Linked DNA regions of Homo sapiens: all the other regions are linked to region 1. The links come from fine-mapping of genetic effects on gene expression. A gene starts in region 1. Each other region holds a variant in brackets. All regions are shown on one strand. Distances are between the middles of the regions. Region 1 holds the start of RAB11A (RAB11A, member RAS oncogene family). Region 2 overlaps MEGF11 (multiple EGF like domains 11). Region 3 overlaps MEGF11 (multiple EGF like domains 11).

Evidence for each region. PIP is the estimated chance that this variant, and not a neighbour inherited with it, causes the effect.
Region 2: its variant is the best candidate, but not a certain one, in a credible set for the expression of RAB11A in whole blood (TOPMed, PIP 0.89).
Region 3: its variant is the best candidate, but not a certain one, in a credible set for the expression of RAB11A in whole blood (TOPMed, PIP 0.55).

What each region holds. Positions count from the first base shown.
Region 1 is chr15:65,867,904-65,871,903 of GRCh38, forward strand. It overlaps RAB11A (RAB11A, member RAS oncogene family), which reads left to right and starts at 1,588. Exons shown (of 5, transcript NM_004663.5): 1 at 1,588-1,722. The coding sequence starts at 1,683. TRQ-CTG1-4 (tRNA-Gln (anticodon CTG) 1-4) reads right to left here and starts at 1,230; the gene lies at 1,159-1,230. RefSeq lists an enhancer at 1,402-1,461.
Region 2 is chr15:65,988,466-65,992,765 of GRCh38, forward strand. The region is part of intron 5 of MEGF11 (multiple EGF like domains 11); the gene reads right to left. Among named protein-coding and RNA genes, the nearest start is that of MIR4311, 50 kb to the right of the region's middle. The variant ACT/A (reference allele first, on the strand shown) is at 1,731.
Region 3 is chr15:65,899,103-65,903,102 of GRCh38, forward strand. All of the region lies in intron 24 of MEGF11 (multiple EGF like domains 11), which reads right to left. Among named protein-coding and RNA genes, the nearest start is that of RAB11A, 32 kb to the left of the region's middle. RefSeq lists enhancers at 3,255-3,474, 3,561-4,000 and a silencer at 3,394-3,558. The variant T/C (reference allele first, on the strand shown) is at 1,964.

The DNA.
Region 1 (4,000 bases):
TTTTTTTTTTTTTGAGAACGAGTCTCTCTCTGTTGCCCAGGCTGGAGTGCAGTGGCGTGGTATCAGCTCACTGCAACCTCCGCTTCCCGGGTTCCAGCAATTCTCATGCCTAAGCCTCCAGAGTAGCTGGGACTACAGGCACCCACCACCACGCCAGACTAATTTTTTGTATTTTAGTAGCGACAGGGTTTCACCTTGTTGGCCAGGCTGGTCTTGAACTCTTGACCTCAGGTGATCCACCCACCTTGGCCTCCCAAAGTGCTGGAATTAAGGCCTGAGCCACCGTGCCCAGCCCATTTTCTACTTTTAAGGACCTTATGACAACACTGGGCCCACCCAACTAATCCAGGATAATATCCCTAATTTAATGTCAGCTGATAAGCAACCTTAATTTCATCTGTAACCTCAATTCCCCTTTGCCATGTAACCTAACCTATTCAGTCTCCAGGAATTGGGAAGTGGACATCATTGGCAGGGGGCATTATTCTGCTTGTTATAGGCATACTTGCCCACAAGTCTAAATCGAGAGTTTGCATATAGGAGGTAGGAGGTGTGACAATAATTGGATAAAGGCTTTTCTGGAATGACAAAATTCTCTTCAAATACAGGGAGGCCCTGCGACATGATATCTGGCAAATCACTTGAGTCTTAGTATCCAAACTTCCGCTAAAATGGAAATTACCATCCTTTGCTTGGCATGTTAAATGAAATACTTATGTAAACGGACTTAGATTAGAGGCCTACAAATAGGACTCAAGTTCTTGATGAATCTTGATGAGGAGGGTGGGCGAAGTACTCTAAATGAAAATGAGATAGATTGCGAGATTTCCGGAGAGGAGTGAGTGACAAGCGCCTACCCGTGCATGAAGCTGGAGGTAGAAAATTCCAGCAAAAGGAATTTTCAAGTTTCACTGAAGCTTTTGAATCAAGGCTTGAAAGCCCAGGGTTAAAAAAAAGGCAGTGAAGAAGCTCATTAAGACAACCCCCCGCCAGGTAGCAGATAGCACCTGAAATGCAGTGGGAAATTTGTGAGGTCTTCATAGGCAAGGATTAAATTTTACATCTCCATCTTAAGATGTGTCATAGTTGTTCAATTACTTAGTGACCAAAAAAGTGAATTAAAGATGTTGTCAAGATTAAAAAAACAAAAACCAATGCAGGTTCCACCGAGATTTGAACTCGGATCGCTGGATTCAGAGTCCAGAGTGCTAACCATTACACCATGGAACCGCCACGCATGTGTAGCTGCCTTCGGCTGTCTAATCCTCAGAGAACCCCGCCCCCATCCACAAACCCACCACTCACAGGCGGTCCCGCCTGGTTCCAGCGAGCCGCTTCCGGCACGGTAGCTCGAGAAATGAGCAAGCGGCCACTAAGACTATGGTAGCTAGGAGTTCCAGGACTCAGTTTCCCCTTTGAGCCTCCTTTAGCGACTAAAGCTTGAAGCCCCACGCATCTCGACTCTCGCGCACACCGCCCTTGTTGGGCTCAGGGGCGGGGCGCCGCCCCCGGAAGTACTTCCCCTTAAAGGCTGGGGCCTGCCGGAAATGGCGCAGCGGCAGGGAGGGGCTCTTCACCCAGTCCGGCAGTTGAAGCTCGGCGCTCGGGTTACCCCTGCAGCGACGCCCCCTGGTCCCACAGATACCACTGCTGCTCCCGCCCTTTCGCTCCTCGGCCGCGCAATGGGCACCCGCGACGACGAGTACGACTACCTCTTTAAAGGTGAGGCCATGGGCTCTCGCACTCTACACAGTCCTCGTTCGGGGACCCGGGCCACTCCCGGTGGACCCTCGTGCCGGCCACCCCTGCACTGATATAGGCCTCCCTCAGCCCTTCCTTTTTGTGCGGTTCCGTCTCCTACCCAGCTCAGCCTCTTCTCCCCCGCTCAGACAGGGGTCCCCATCACATGCCGCTCTCTGAGCGACCTCTCCATAGGCCTTCGCTGGCCTCAGAGCCCCTCCCTGCGTGTCCTTCCCCTGGCGGACTGCCTTCTCCCACATCGTCGAATTCCTTTCCCCGGGTTCTACGGCCCCGCCGCTCCTCCCACCATCTCTCTTTTCGGGTGTAGCGCCCCCTCCCCCTCGGCGTACACCCTTCCCAGCTCGCGTCCTCTCCCGAAGCCCCTCTGACGGGTTCTTCGCTTCCCTCTTGGCCTTGCCTTCGGTGCAGACTCCCATTACAGGTCTTTTTCTTATCTGCCCTCTTTCCCCCCTCGAGCGAGCGTCTCTTCTGTATCTCCCCTCCACTTGGACGGCCGCCCCTCTAAGCTTCTCCCATCCCGGGTCCAGGACCCCGTAAAATCTGAGCGGGCCAAGGGCCTCCGCCCCCACCCTCCGCCCCGCGGTTCTCGCGGTCCTTAACCTTCTCTGACCGCTCCCTCTCCCACTCCCCATTTGGCAACTCTCTCTACCTTCCCTCCCCAAATCGTGTTTAGAGCTCCCTTGTCTCCGTTGCGACCTGGGTGGTGGGAGGGAGGGTAAGAGGGATCGCCCATCACCCACTCGCGCACTTGTCGCAGTGACCCGGCAGGCTGACATTACTTCCCACCTAGCCTTTTCTTTTCTTGCCCTCCCTACTCAGTGGCACCCAACCCGGGATAACTCTTTACTCGGTTCGCGAGATGAGGTTGCGGATGGGTGGTGGCTGTTATCCTTGCCAGACCTGAAGGCCTGGTTCCTGAGCAGGAAAGGTTGTGCGCTGCACAAATACTAGCTTGCTTTATCTCTATGAACTGGTTGCTTCCTGCTGCAACGCTGGGAGGATCCAACAGGAAGGGAAGAGCCCTAGTTAGCCACATACCTTTCCCAAAAGGTTGGGGGTGGGAGGAAGTTGTGTGCTCTTTTGGTTACATTAAATATTTATTATAAGATACGGAAACATGTAGTGCCCTTGGACAGAACATATTGGAGGGTCAGGGTTGGTTAGAAAGAATTGCTTATTGGTTGAGTCCGGAAGGAATCCGGTTTTTTTTTTTAATCAACGAAGATAAAGGGTACATTTTTCAATGAGAAGAGAGTACAGTAGATGCTTTTTTTGTTCAGTGAATGCACTCTCACTCTGATGCTCTTTCTCTGCTCCTGAATTGGGAAGGTAGCCATCAGTAGTGTGCCGAACAAAGATCATTACCACTGAGGAAGAAGCCATTGCTATTAAAGCTTTACTGTGGAGGGTGGAGTTTCAAGAGTGTTAAGCATGGTGACTGTTTCTGTCTTTGCCATTGGGTGCTAAGAATGATTGACTAAACCAAGCAGGAAAGATTTCTTTGCTTTCCCAATACTTTGCAAATCTTGTTATACTAACTAGTCTGCTGTTATACTCTTATCATCTCTTACTCCTCTGACTCAGAATATTCTACTGTATAGGGTGAATACTTTTGGTATCCACCCTCCCCCTCCATACTGGAAAGTACTTTCAGGGTACTTAGTTCATTTTACAAATACAAAACTGAGGCCTGGATTACAAAAAGTATATGACAGCATACCTTTTGCCGAAGGTATCTGAGATGATGTGAAACTATTTGAATCTCTTGAGACTTTGGGGTTAAAGGTTAGGTTTGTGTTTTGAAATATGGTATAATGGTAGTGTGCTTTTATAAAGGTTGTCTTTGAAGTAATTAATTCAGAACAAGATAGACCGTCAGGGTATTTCTCCTGTTTGGTTTGAACTTGAATGTTGGTTATACAAGGTCCTTTTATTTTTTAACAAAGAATATTAAATATTCTGAATTGGCCTAAAGTATTTTAACTTTTTGATTAGACCATCCTTCTAGCAACAATTGAGAGCACTGAGCTTTGGAATCACGTAGACCTCGGTTTAGATCCTGACTCAGGTCTTATATTTACTTTATGACCTTGGAAAAGTTAACTTTTCTGAGTCTCAGTTCTCTACTTTATAAAAAGGAAAATACCTGCCTCTTAAGATTGTGAGAATTAAATAATGAGACTGTTCGTAAAATTTTAACCATGAGGACTCAATAAATGGTAATAATGTGAAAGAAGTT
Region 2 (4,300 bases), 120 kb after region 1:
ATACTATTCAATTGTATGGACAGACTACATTTTGTTTATCCATTCGTCTGTTGATGACACTGAGTTGTTCCACCTTTTGGTTATTGTCTAGAAGACAACAGTGAACACTGGGATATAAGTATCTTTTAGAGTCCCTGAAGACAATTCATTAAAGGGACACAACTAAATATGTTTTGATGCCGTTATGGACTGTACTAGGAATAATAAATAATGCGGCCGACCATTACTTTTCTGCCTTCACTACTGTATAGGAAGGTTTAGGTGCCTGTGCCCAGTCTGCTGCATTAGCCCTGGAGTCTCTCTGGGCTGGAGGAAGACAGGAGCTAAGGTGTGTCCTTAGTTTGTGATTGCCCTTTACTTTCCCCACATCCACCATCTGGTCCCACCCTGCAGCCAGCTCAGCGGGGCACAAGAAGAGCTGTCAGCAGTGCTGTTGAAGGTGACTGGCCAGCCCTTCTCCCAGCTACCAAAGAACCCCCTCCCAGCTGCTTGTAGGATTCACTTCTTCAGACAGTGGTTCTTGGCCTGGCTGCAGATCAGCATCACTGGGGCAGTTTTAAGAAACACTCTTGCTTGAGATCTACCCATGGCCATTCCAAATGAATTGGTCTAGGGTGGTAGGGCCCAAGCATAGGTCCCTTGAAAAGCTCCCCAGGTGAGAACTCTTTTTTCCCATGATCTCTGTTCTCACTGGTCCTCTCAGGGAGATGTGCAGGAGGATGCTGGGCTGGAGGTGGGGTGGGAGAGAAGGTTAGTCCTTCCCATTCCATAGACAGGAATCCTGAGACCCAGCAAGCAGGAGGAGTTGGCCTCTGAATTGAAGGTCAAGGGATGGAAATGAACCTGGAAGCCACTGCCCCTGAGCTACCCCAGCTTGTACTAAGGACTGGGCCAAGGCCCCCACCTCCCTTCTCCTCTCCAGCAATGGGAAGGCCTGATGCAGTCACAGCCCCTCCCAGAAAGGTCTGTGGCCCCCAATCTTCCACCCCACCCACAGAAGCAGCAGCGAGAGCTGACAGGTCACGGGATTGCTCCTGAGTTTACAAAGCAGTAGGCAGGGAGGCAGAGATGGAGCAGCAGCCGCCGGAAACCATTCCAGCTGATAAATAAAGTGACTTCCCAGTGAGTGAGGCCATTTGTCAACTGACTTGCCCCAGTAAAAGCAAAGTCAAGTTCTCCGAGGCTGAGCCCCTTGCTCTTTCCAGGCCTAAGCTGCAATTCTGAGGGAGCACTGAAGGATGGGTCAGAGCCAATGCTGGGTACTCCTGGGCAGCCTCCTTCCCTCTTTGGGCCTCTGTTTTTACATCTGTAAAACAGGTTTGGATCAGTGGTTCTTGCCTGGAGTAGGTCACCCTCCCCAAGACAGCATCTGGAAATGGGAGGGGGGAATTTAGGTTGTCACAAATAATCCCAGGGACAATTGTACACAATTTAGAACTGTATCCTGGCTGTGTGCAATGGCTCGTACCTGTAATCCCAAAACTTTGGGAGGCCGAGGAAGGAGGATCACTGAGATTAGACACTTGAGACCAGCCTGGACAACACAGTGAGACCCTGTCTCTACCAAAAGCTAAAATTATCTACCAAAAGCTAAAATTATCCAGCTGTGGTGGTGCACACCTGTAGTCCCAGCTACTTGGGAGGCTGAGGTAAGAGGATCACTTGAGCCCAGGAGGTCGAGGCTGCAGTGAGCTATGACTGTACCACTGCTCTCCAGCTGTGCAACAGAG[ACT/A]CTGTCTCTAAAAATAAGATAAATAAAATACAAATAAAAAATGCCAAAGATGTCCCCATTCAGAAATACTGGGCCAGATGCGGTGGCTCACACCTGTAATCCCAACACTTTGAAAGGCTGAGGCAGAAGGGTAGCTTGAGTCCAGGAGTTCAAGACCAGCCTGGGCAACGTGGCAAAACCCCATCTCTACAAAAATTATAAAAATTAGCTTGGTGTGGCGGCATGTGCCTGTAGTCCCAACTACTCAGGAGGCTGAGGTGGGAGAATTGCTTGGGCCTGAGAGGTCGGGCTGCAGTGAGCTGTGATGGCGCCACTGTACTCCAACCTTGGTAACATGGTGAGACCCTGTCCAAAAGCAAGCAAACAAGCAAGCAAGGGAAGAAAGGAAAGAAAGAAAGAAAAGAAAAGAAAAGAAAAAAAAGAAAAGAAAAAAAGAGAAAGGAAAAGAAAAAAGAAGGAAGGGAAGGGAAGAAAGGGAAGAAAGGAAGAAAGGAAGAGAAAGAAAGAAAGGAAGGAAGAAAGAAAGAAAGAAAGAAAGAAAAAGAAAGAAACAAACAAACACTGGTAGGTAAATGCTGGAGACTCTTCAAGTCCCAATGCTGTGTGATTCTCTGCCCTGTTGCCAAATGTCCCCACTTGAGAAACAGGCCAGAGGACACAGGGATAGGAGGTGTGTTTGTATGAAAAAGAAAAATTGGAGGTGGTTACCCGAGCTCTGAGCTGAGCTATCACTCAGTTTCCTATCTTTCTGCCACTTAGATTGTTGGAATTAAATATTAATAGACCAAGGTAGATTAAAACCCAAATCTCTTGACACAGTCCCTAAGCCTAGAAGATGCTGACAGCACAGGATTATAATGATGTATCATTAGCTCTTAGTGATCTATTTATTACACTTGTTACTCGGTGTTACTTAACCACACCGTCTATACCTCCCTTAAACCTCCAAGGGGAGGCTGGGATTCACAGAGGCTGCGGCTGCATATCCCACCCATCTCCTAGGGTAGCAGGGATGGAGGAGTGAGCACACGCACGTGGGGAAAACCCTAACCCCGAGAGCTTACCAGGGACCAGCTGCATTCTCCCATGGGTTGTTTCCTCTAATTTTCTTACTAATCCTGTGCCAGTTATTCATACCCTGCCTCATTCCAAAGAGGATCTGAGGTAAACCATGTGAGATGTGATTATGATTCCATTTTCCAATGAGAAAACTGAGGTTCAGAGGCATTAAATAACTAAATCAGGGCTTCTCAACCTCAGCACATTTTGGGCCAGAAAATTCTTTGCTATGGGGAACCATCCTGTGCATTGCAGGGCATTTAGTGGCATCCCTGGCCTCTACCCACGAGATGCCAGTAGTACCTCCCCGACACACATACACACAATTGTGGCAATCAAAAGTGCCTCCAGATATTGACAAACATCCCCTGGCAGTGGGTAACATCACCTGATTGTGAAAGGTGAAGTTGAGAGTCATATATTGGCTTTCTTTACTGCTAGGCTTTAGAAGTCATCTTGTGTACACTCCACATTTTACAGGTCAGGAAACTGGGCCAGAGAAGCTGAATGACTTGCCCGTGACCACACAGCTAACAAACTGGAGAGCTGCATTTGAAACTAGCTGACTGTATCCATCTAGGGCTCTTTGCCTCCCATCACACCAGCTATTACGAGATGAGAGGCTCAATGTCAAACAATTATCAAGCACCTATCATGTTAGGGGCTCAGAAGCCTGCAGTCAGTTTGAGAAACAGACAAGCAAATGGGAAACTGTCAGAACACGGGGTGATGAGAGGAGCTCTGGGCAAGCTGTCTGCTAAAACTGGGGAGGGTGCTCCACTGTCAGGCTAGAGACAAGGAGGCCCGGGAGCGGGCAGTGTCTCGGGCAGCAGGGCAGGAGGGGGAACAAAGGCCATGGGTACATTCAATGCCCTGAGCAAAGGCAGTTGCTCCAGCTCATTACCTTCCTCATCTCTATTGCCGTAGCTTCCACCACAGCTCCAGGCAGCCAGGTCCATTTCAACCAGGAGTATCACCATCAACATTTCAGGAGTGAGTGGGGAGATTCAGGAGCAGTTTTATCAGAGCCGGGCATCTCTCTGCAGATGGCTGAATTGAAACCAACACTGAGCCCCTGCTTGAAATATCACTGCACCTGCTTGGCACTGCACCATTAGGACCCCGTTCCTCAAGGGCTGCAGGAATCCCTATTAAAATGCAAACAACCCCGTTTGTGCCTCTGTGTGTGTGTGTGGGGGGGGGGGTTAGTCACATCCTGAGGCACTATCAGCCATTAATATCTCAGTTATCTCTTAATATCCAAGTGGCAATTAGCAGATCTGGAAGCCAGATTCAGCAGGGTATGTGTATGTTTATTGACCTGCTTTAGGAGAGAGGAGGTGGGAAGATGGGAAAGTCAAATTTATCAACTTCGGGGACTTTATCAGGGACTTTATCGGGGACTTTTTTTTTTTTTTTAAATCAGCATCTGCTCTGGATGTAGAATGCCACAGTATTGTGTGGACAGATAATGGGAAGGAACAGTAAGTGTGAGAGACTTTGCAGGTA
Region 3 (4,000 bases), 31 kb after region 1:
GGTAGGCAGAGTTCTTTTTCCAAAGAAACTTATGTTTTTGGAGGATAGGAACATTTTTGTTTTTAGTAGTTGGGTATTAATTCAAGATATGCATAATATGCTTTGACATGTATTTAATTTTTGTAAATTCCTGCAAGGGTTGCTGATAGTTGCATTTTATGAGATCAAGGCTCAGAGATATGAAGTGACTTAGCTAAAGTCACACAGCTAGTGAATGGCAGTGCCAAGAATTGAATCCATGCCTTTGGACTCCTTGGCCTGTGCATTTTCTGTGATGATATTCTTGTGAATTCTTCTTTTTTGAGATGTTGCCTAGGCTGGTCTCAAACTCCTGGGCTTAAGTGATTCTCCCGCCTCAGCCTCCTGAGTAGCTGGTATTATCGGTACGTGCCACCACACCTGACTTGAATTGTTTTCAATGACTGAGAAGCTTAGGTTCAGAAGAAGTAGGCATGCATGTTTTAGCACAGATGTCAGCAATTTGACAGCCTATAAGTGGCAGACTCTTAGCAGTATCCCTGCCCTCCAGGAGCTCATCAGAATAGGGTAGACTGAAGTGTAATTGAGGTGTAAAAAGCACGTCAGTCTTAAGCTAGCCTTTGGAAAGTTCCTGTTTTCTAGCAAGCCTGTAACGTGTTCTTGGGTTGCTTACCCCCCTGTTCTTGTCAATGCTAACTGAAACCTATTTCAGCAGTATCTTTCTGATACTAGAGCTCATGCTTCCTTTCCTGCCACCTCTCAGTTGTATAGTTGTACCATCCCCGAGACTTCAGAGTACAAAAGGATGCAGGCTGGTTTCCAAATATGAAATGAGGTACTGTAGTTTCACTGGAGGAAGATGGGTTCTTTAGTGACTGGGAGTTACGGAAGGAAAGGGGATTCCCTCTTTCAGCCTCTGTACCATTCTCTGTTTGGGGAAGATCACTGACTCCTGCAGATAGTCCCAGGCAAGGCAGGATTTGCCTGGAAAGAGCAGTAAACTCTAATCTAGCAGCTCTGACCTTCTTCTGTGAAGCTCTGCTAGACAAGGGATCTAGACACAAGCACTGAGCTGCTTGAGTTGATAGAAGTGATCTAAAAGGCGTCTCAGCACTAAATTTCTGTGAAAGGTAGCAGATGGTGAAATTCTTGGATGATCTGTCACTAGAACTACCACAGTTTACATTTTGGGCTGCTATTTATGCTGTCTCCAATTTGTGAGAGTAATGAAAATGGTAAAAAGTGAAAGTGATAATGTAACTCAATGGATGTCTTAGATGTACCTTGGGACCCTGAAAGCAGAACACTCCGTATGGCTGAAGTAGCTAGATGTGTGCCACCACAAGTAGTCTTATCTCCCATAAAAGGCAACTGGTTGGAAGAGTATTTACTTTTCTGTTAAAGTAGATGTCCATTCTGTTGATGTTTGTTTCAGCAGATAGTATTTCCTCAATCTTGTACAAAAATATGTTCAGCCATTAGTTCCTTCAAGTGTTCACACAACACTCTGTGGTATAGGTAGAGCAATAATTCTCTCTCTCCTTCTCCTCTCATTGCTTATTGAGGAAGTCATTGCTTATGAGATTTAGAGTGGAAATTGACTTCCTCAGGATCACACTGCTTATCACTAGCAGAGCAAACTCTGTAGAACCAGGCTCAGCATTTTCCATCACAATTTAGCCCAGAAGTAGAGAGGGATATTGGCTTTAGTCACGTCTTAAGATTGTGGCCTCTTTAGCATATGACTCTAGAGAGAAGGAGAAAACATCCTTGCGAGACACTGAACGATCTCAGCTAGCACCAGCAAGGCCTAAAGGGAGGCCAGATATAGGCCCAGATGCTGGTTGACTTTTATTTCAAATGCTGCACTAGTGCCCTGATTTCACTAAGTTACTTATTTGAGACACCTACCAACTTCATATATATTTTTATTAGATGTCGACAAGGATGGCACATCTGTGTATGGAGACCCCATGTGCACAGG[T/C]GACTTCATTTCTACATAGCTGCTTGGACCCTTGACTGTGACCTGCCCAAACCACATAAATTTGCCCCTTAGAGGGTACTTAGTTTTTTAGTACAAGGAAGTGGTGGTAAGTCCAAGAACCCCAGCATGGCCCATCTGTCCCACTTTGGGTTCTCTGAACTCACCAGCCAAGGAGTAAGGCAATAAGGCACAGAGCTTCTGGTTTGGAAGCTGAGGACTAGTAGTATTTAAAGAAAGGCTATTGCACCTGCCTCAACTGCATATTTTCTAACGTGATGAATAACCACTTTATGTAGCAATTATAGTCTTCATTCCAATTAGGTCATTTGAAACTTGTTACATAATGAATAGGGCTGTGCAGAAAGGACTATTACTACTTCAGAATGAGGAATCTGAAGCTCAGAAAATTTGCTAGTATAATTCCTAATGTTAGTAAGTAGTTGAACCCCTATTGTCTCTTAGTTGATACCAATCAAGATGTTTTCCCTCACTACGTGTCTTGTTATCCAGTGCTCCTGTCCTTATCTCTAAAGGCAAACTGTATCTGCAGCAGCTCCACCTTACTCTGAACTCACCAGTCAAGGAGTAAGGCAGTAAGGCACAGAGCTTCTGGTTTGGAAGCTGAGGACTAGTAGTATTTAAAGAAAAGCTATTGCAGCTGCCTCAACTGCATATTTTCTAACATGTGAGGAATAACCACTTTATGTAGCACGTATAGTCTTCATTCCAATTAGGTCATTTGAAACTTGTTACATCGTGAATAGGGCTGGGCAGAAAGGACTGTTGTTTCTACTTTAGAATGAGGAATCTGAAGCTCAGAAAATTTGCTAATATAATTCCTAATGTTAGTAAATAGTTTAGTCAGGACTCAACCCCTGTCTTCTCTTGATACCAATCAAGATGTTTTCCCTCACTACGTGTCTTGTTATCCAGGGCTCCTGTCCATATCTCTAAAGGCAAACTGTATCTGCAGCAGCTACACCTTACCCTTAACAAGGAATGTCTTTCATCTATGGGGCTAAGCCCAGCTGAGAGAAAAAGGCTAAGCTCTTAAGTTTTTTGTGGATATCCCATGACTGAGTTAGGGCAGTAGGAGAGCCTTGAAGTTCAATGCCTAAAAGAACCTCGGCCAGTTGATAGTGCCTCTTCTCATTTTCACCAGAAAAGTCGGGGCTACTTTAAAGTTTTGGGGAATCAATTGTTGGCTCTGGAGCAGGGGATGATCCTAAATGGATAAAAGAGAAGTTGATGTCTGTGGGGAGGGGCTAAGCTCAGGGGGAAGTATCTTCCATACAGGAGCAGAGGATGGAGCAGTGCATGTATGTGTTGGCTGGGTGGTGAGAAAAGGGTGTTGAATTATGGACTCTTCTGTACCCCATCTCTACTGGGACTGGAGAATGGGGAAGGGCTGGGCAAGCTGGAAACTCCACCTCAGGAAGCCACTTTGTTCTCCAGCTGAGTCATCCACCTGCCTGCAAGAGGGGAGGGCAGGGTTGAGTGGAAGAATAACCAGCTGCTCTTAGATACTTCCTCATCCTTTCATAGCCCCACCCCTGTCCCAGTCCCAGCCCTTCAGGGCATTTTGCAAAGAAAGAGGAAGCATCAACCCAGGCTACCCAAGCTCTGGGAGTCACTCCTCCAAGGCTTGTCATTTGCATCAGGATTGGCGGCTTGGTCCTGTAATGCCCTGGCATTTGGTCTCATCTGGTTCCTGCCTCCCCACATAGTCATACACTGTCAGAGACAGAGGGGGCTTCTGAGATGAACTAAACATTTTCATTTTATAAAGGGAGCATCAAATCTAGAGAGAGGCAGTGACTTTCCAGGGCCACCTTGTGTGTGGGATCTGAGCCCACCTTGGCTTCTAGGTGCATGCTAACCTCCACTAAGGCCCAACTTAACTGTCAGGGAAAAACCCAGGCACCGAATATCCATCTCTTGCTTCTTGGCTTGCTACTATTAATAGAAGGCCACACTGCCTCTTCTCTTCCTGGGCCATAAATTAGCATCCTTCTCTTGATTGAGAGATAGGAGGAG